Regions from separate parts of the Homo sapiens genome. Here region 1 is linked to region 2. The links come from fine-mapping of genetic effects on gene expression. Tissue or cell type: whole blood. Region 2 holds a variant in brackets; the other region holds the start of a gene. All regions are shown on one strand. Distances are between the middles of the regions.

Region 1 (2,607 bases), 120 kb after region 2:
AAAACTTGCCCACTGTGGAGTGAGGTTGGACAGTGATCCTATATCCTAGGTAATGAGGCTATTAAAGCAGCTGGTCTCTTCAGCTTATGTAAGTGGGGCCCAGTCTCTGGGCGACTTGGGTAAACCGGTATAGAATTTAACAGGGTGACTAGGAGTGACAGCAGCAGTAAGACCCCCATTTCTAATGTGGCGTTAGGGCTGGAGGTTAGATGTGGACAGGGGTGTCTGAGTCCTACATAATGGGGCTGGATGACTAGTCTGAGATCTGGGTTCACGCAGCAACCACACTCTTTTTTACTCACACTGTTCATCTGGGCTTGGGTGGAAAGAGGCTGATGAGGATTTGGGGGAAATCAAGGGGCTCTCCCTGGCATTGCATGAAGTCGCAGAACCAGTGGCAAAAGTCCAACTTTGGAGACAATTACTTCTCGGGTGGGAGCCCCAGCCCTGCCTCTTGCCTGCGATGTCGCCAATCTGACTGCGCTTGCTGGAGACGGGAAATGTGGCACGGCACTGCATCCCCCAACACGTGTAGAAACTTAGAGAATGCCAGTTATTAAAATAACCCTTATGATAACACCAATTCGATGCAGAAGTCTTTTAAATATCATAAGCCTCGTCGTTTTATTCCACATGGTTTTCTAGGTAACCAAATTCTAGGAGGTGCGTTGCAGGGCCATCTTCGCATCCCGGCCATGCCCAGCAGGACGGTGTTCTCTAAACGGCGCTGATGCCCGATTTCGACCCCGAGGAGACTGCGGACCTCGACTGCGGCCCCCACCAGGGCCGGTCCGCCCTCACTCCACCCTCTGAGGCTGGGGCGGAGTCGACCGGCCGGCCCCGAGACCCCTTGCCTTACCGGTGGAGCAAGGAACCGGAAGCCGCGGCTCTTACATAACCGGGATGATGTCAGGGCGGGCGACTCCCGGGGGGCGGGACCAGGGCGGAGGCCGCGCCGGGAGCGCGGTGGGGCTAGGCGTGGGGCGCTCCCGGCATGTCCCTGTACCGCAGCGTCGTGTGGTTCGCCAAGGGGCTGCGCGAGTACACCAAGTAAGGCGGCGCGGCGGGGCGCGGGGCCCCGGGCTGTCACGTGGCCCGCCTCGGCGCGGGCGAGCAGGGTTGGCGGGGACGCGCCCGCGGCTCCTTCGCCCTCTCGCTGGGCCGACTAAGCGTGTCCAGAACGACGGGTGCGCCCGCCGTCTAGCGACCCACGGCTGGGCGTGGGGCAGTCGCCAGACTCCAGCCGCTCAATGCCCGCGACCGAGACTGGCGCCCGAGGGGCGGGGCTGTGGCGCGCCCAAGCCCAGGGCCGTCCCACTGACGTCAGGCGGCCCCGGCGCCAAGGAGCCTCTTGGGCGGCACCTCGGCGCCCCGCTGGGTGTGCTCGTGGAAGTGTCTTCGTGGTGCTGCTGGCGGCGTCAGATAGGGCTGGATCTAAATCGCTAGCTAAGGCTCTGTCCTAGTGCCTTTGGGTGTGTTTCCTTTAAAAAGATGCAGCACCTGGACTGCGACCTTTGGCTCCAGCTGGAACTTTCCAGCCAGTGTGTGCTTCTGGGGAACGGTGCGTGGTGGTTTCGTCGCCCCGTGACCACGCTCAGTGTGCCCTAGTTGGCTCTCCACCTCATTGTGGTTTTAAGAGGTGACAGGTTCCTGTGACGGAGGAGAGATGGAGGTTTTCTCTTAGAATTGATTAGGCTAACCGCTGGTTCTCAACCCTGTCTGCACATCAGAATCACTGGGCGAGAATTAAAAGTACCCAGTTTTCAGGCCCCATCCCTACAGATTCTGATTTAGTGGATCTGCACAGGGGCCTGGACTGGCATTTCATCCAAATGCCCCAGGTGATTCTCACCTCTGAGAGGCTTCTCCCTGCACTGGGGCTTTATCAGTTCCCACGGCAACCTGGCCAGCACTCCTAGGGGAGGTAGGAGTTGCAACTCCCTGCTCTTCACCCCACATCGTTTTGGAGAAGGTTCAGCTCTGTCTCAGGAGCCCCTGCTGCAGAGAATGGTGGGGAGTGTAGTCGTGAGCCCTGTCCCACAGTTTTTAGGGGAATACAGTGGCAGCCTCTTTCTTTCAAAGGGGTGTCCTCTGGCAATGACCATTAATTGCTGGATCTTTCCACATTACACAGCATGAAAGCTTAAGTCAGTTTCCAACCAGGGGTGGGCCCCAAGGAAAGCAGACTGTAAAAATTTCTCCCAGGACTCTTTCGCTCTGATTTCCCCACCTTGAGGGAAGGTAGAAGTGAGGCCAAGGGGCCCAATCCACCACAGATTGGTGGGGGAAGGGAGGGGAGGGGAAGGCAGTTGGCAAAGTTAGATGGGTTTTCCTGCTGTTGTGGATTTAGTGAATAGGAGAGAAAAACAACAACCTTGTTTTGACTTCAGTGTGAGAGCGCGGAGTTAGAGTTTACAACGTTTCTCTTGGCACAAGGATTTTTATAAAGCCTCCCTATATTGGGCTCCTAAGGCAGGAGGATCTAATCACTGTTTCCTAAACTTTGCTGAACCTAATAATTCCCTGGGGCAGTTTTAAACAGACTCCTAAACCCTGGGCAAGTGTGGATGGGTCCTAAGCAAATTTCATATTTGGGTAAATTGAGGG
Region 2 (2,760 bases):
TACACGTTGGCTGAATTACTGTCAAAGTCTTATCTTTTCTCTGTCAAGTCTTAGCTGGCTTGAGACCATGTAGTTCCCTTCATCTGGAAAATGACACCAAATATTCTATAACTAGCTGTTATCAGACCCGTTTCAGGAGCAGTGCAAAATACAGGCAGCAGCGCAAAATACAGGCAGCAGCTCACATCTTTCTGCTGAGAGGTAAAACGCTTGCTGAGAGTATGTTCTTTGGTTGCAGGCATATACATTGCTATTAAAATGCCTCTTGGATTCCTCACTGCAACGTCATACCTGGACTTCCACAAAATAATTCCACGTATTGCCTAGTCCTTAGCTCCTGAGCCTGGTGATAGAAAGCCTCCCTCCCTCCTTTCCTTCCTTCCTTCTTCCTTTCCTTCCTTCCTTTTCTCCTTCATATTAATCCACTATGAGCTAGGCATGATGCATTAATAGCATAGAGATGAAAGTACTCACTTTCTTTGCTTGCATTTGAGTGGGGGAGTCAGAAAAGCAAACAAGCACAAGAAAATGTCACAGGGACGGTGGCAGGTGAGGAGAGCGACATGCTCACGCAGGTGCGCAGCAGGAGACCTGCAAAGGCAGGTCACCATGGCACCGTTTGCTCGGGACACAGCCGAGACGTCTGCTTAGGGAAGTGGACAGACAACTTGCGATGTGTGTCATAAGAGAAAGTATTTACTCTGCAGCATTCAGAATGAACCAACAGGATCTGTGTGTATCAATATGGGGAAAACACAGTGTTGAGTGAAAAAAATTACAGATACTTAAAGAGTCATGAAGATTAAAAAAAATAATTTTATGTATTGTTCTAGACACCAGTCTCTGTGGTCAAAGTACAAACATGGTCTGGGGCTATATACCAAGTTCAGATCGGTGGTTTCCTATGGGGAGCAAGAGAAGAGAATGGGGTCTGGGAGAGGTGTGTCGGGGCCTTCAGCTATATTTGTAACTTGTTATTTCTAAAACTATGAAGCAAATGTACCAAAATGTCAGCACTGGTTAAATCTGGGTAGTGGGTCAGGGATTTTGTCTTCTTATTCTCTGTATTTATATACATATTTAAAATATGTGTAAATTTTTAAAAATACACGTGGGTCTGGTGTTTGTAGAGAGGGCAGGACTAAAGCTATAGCATTGGCTCACCTTCACAGCAGGCTCAGGTGAATCAGTGGGCTGGGGAGTTTCACCTGGGCCTCGGCACTGGCCACTGGCACTTCACACAGAGGC[G/A]AGCAAGGGCCTTGGGAAGCACTTATTTTTCACAAAGCAGGTAGAGAAAGAGAAGGAAAAGATGGGAATAGGAGGTTTCAGAAAGGAGCAGAGCCAGGAGAGATGTGTCATAAGGAGGTCCAGGAAAGAAAAATAATTTCTAATTATGGGGCCGGTCATGGTGGCTCATGCCTGTAATCCTGGCACTTTGGGAGGCCAAGGTGAGTGGATCACTTGAACTCAAGAGTTCGAGACCAGCCTGGGCAACATGGCAAAACCCTGTCTCTACAAAAAAAAAAAAAAAAAAAAAAAAAGAATTTCAAAAATTAGCCAGGCATGGTGACGTGTCCCTGTGGTCCCAGCTACTTGGGAGGCTGAGGTGGGAGGATACTTGAGCTGGGGAGGTTCAGGCTTCAGTGAGCTGTGATTGCACCACTGTGCTCCAGCCTGGATGACAGAGCAAGACGTTGTTCCAAAGACTAACTAAATAAATAAAAATAGTTTTAAAAATTACATGGAAAATGTCAATTGCTTTGTATGTAGAAATACAGAGACTAAGAGTGAATCCCCATATACCCACCCTGAACATCTTGAATTAAATAATTGTCAAGGTTTTGCCATATCATTTTTGCTTCTTCTATTCCTCCTTTTCTTTCTTTTTCTCTTTTTTATTTGCTGAAGTAATTTAAAGTAAATCCCGGATGCCATGTCTTTCCACCCCTTCATACTGCCTTGTGCAATTCTAAAATATCCAGACACTGAGAAAGATTTTTAAAGCGGGAAGTGTCAGTCACATTAAATGTTACAGATGACTTGAGATGAGGACCAGGGGGCTGTCAGGAAAGTTCCAGGATGGAGAACAGCTGAAGGTGCAGAGGTGGCAGGAGGAAGTGCTGACCCCCAAGGCATTGCTGGAATTGGCACTAGGAGTTCACAGAGGGCCTTCGAGAGAAACATTCAAGAAATGCCAATCATTATTTTGAGAACTGTGATGGTAAAGAGGAGAAGGAAGATCACCTTTGAGCATGCAGGGATGAGGCACAGAAATATTTTTAGGATGGAGAGAGATCGATATTTGGAAGCTCAGGTGACAGGTATGAAAAAGGAAGCAAAACTGATGGAAGAAATTCCCAGAGGGACAGAAGGGAATGAGAGGACACTGGGATGAATCTCTCAATAAACAGGAAAGAAGTTACTGAAACATCTAGAGGTGGGAGGAGAAGGGCGACATTCTTGGAGGACACTGAGTTTGCAGTTTGGGACGTGAGAATTCGGAACTCCCTGGGGCAGAGACCAGGGTCAACCCAGAATTGTGATGATATTGTGATTTATCGGGTAGCTGCTGCAGGCACTTTTGTCATCTCGTTTAAGCCCCATCAATGCATTTTGCAGCTCAGAAACGTGAACTCAGAGATGTTAAGTAACTTAACTTGCCCAACACATACTTAGTAATTAGCAGAATTGCTTTTAGCGCAGAGCCCTTCTACACAGCCCTGAGGAACACTGTCCTTAAACCACAGGACTCGCTGGTAG

The links. PIP is the estimated chance that this variant, and not a neighbour inherited with it, causes the effect.
Region 1: it holds the start of DHRS12, and the variant in region 2 is fine-mapped to the expression of DHRS12 in whole blood (TOPMed, PIP above 0.99).

Annotation. Positions count from the first base shown.
Region 1 is chr13:51,802,497-51,805,103 of GRCh38, reverse strand. It overlaps DHRS12 (dehydrogenase/reductase 12), which reads left to right and starts at 941. Exons shown (of 9, transcript NM_001377533.1): 1 at 941-1,050. LOC107984561 (a long non-coding RNA gene) reads right to left here and starts at 1,268. Exons shown (of 2, transcript XR_007063805.1): 1 at 303-1,268. RefSeq lists enhancers at 61-190, 2,576-2,607 and a silencer at 741-1,380.
Region 2 is chr13:51,917,585-51,920,344 of GRCh38, reverse strand. It overlaps a transcript of TMEM272 not described here. Among named protein-coding and RNA genes, the nearest start is that of CCDC70, 57 kb to the right of the region's middle. The variant G/A (reference allele first, on the strand shown) is at 1,249.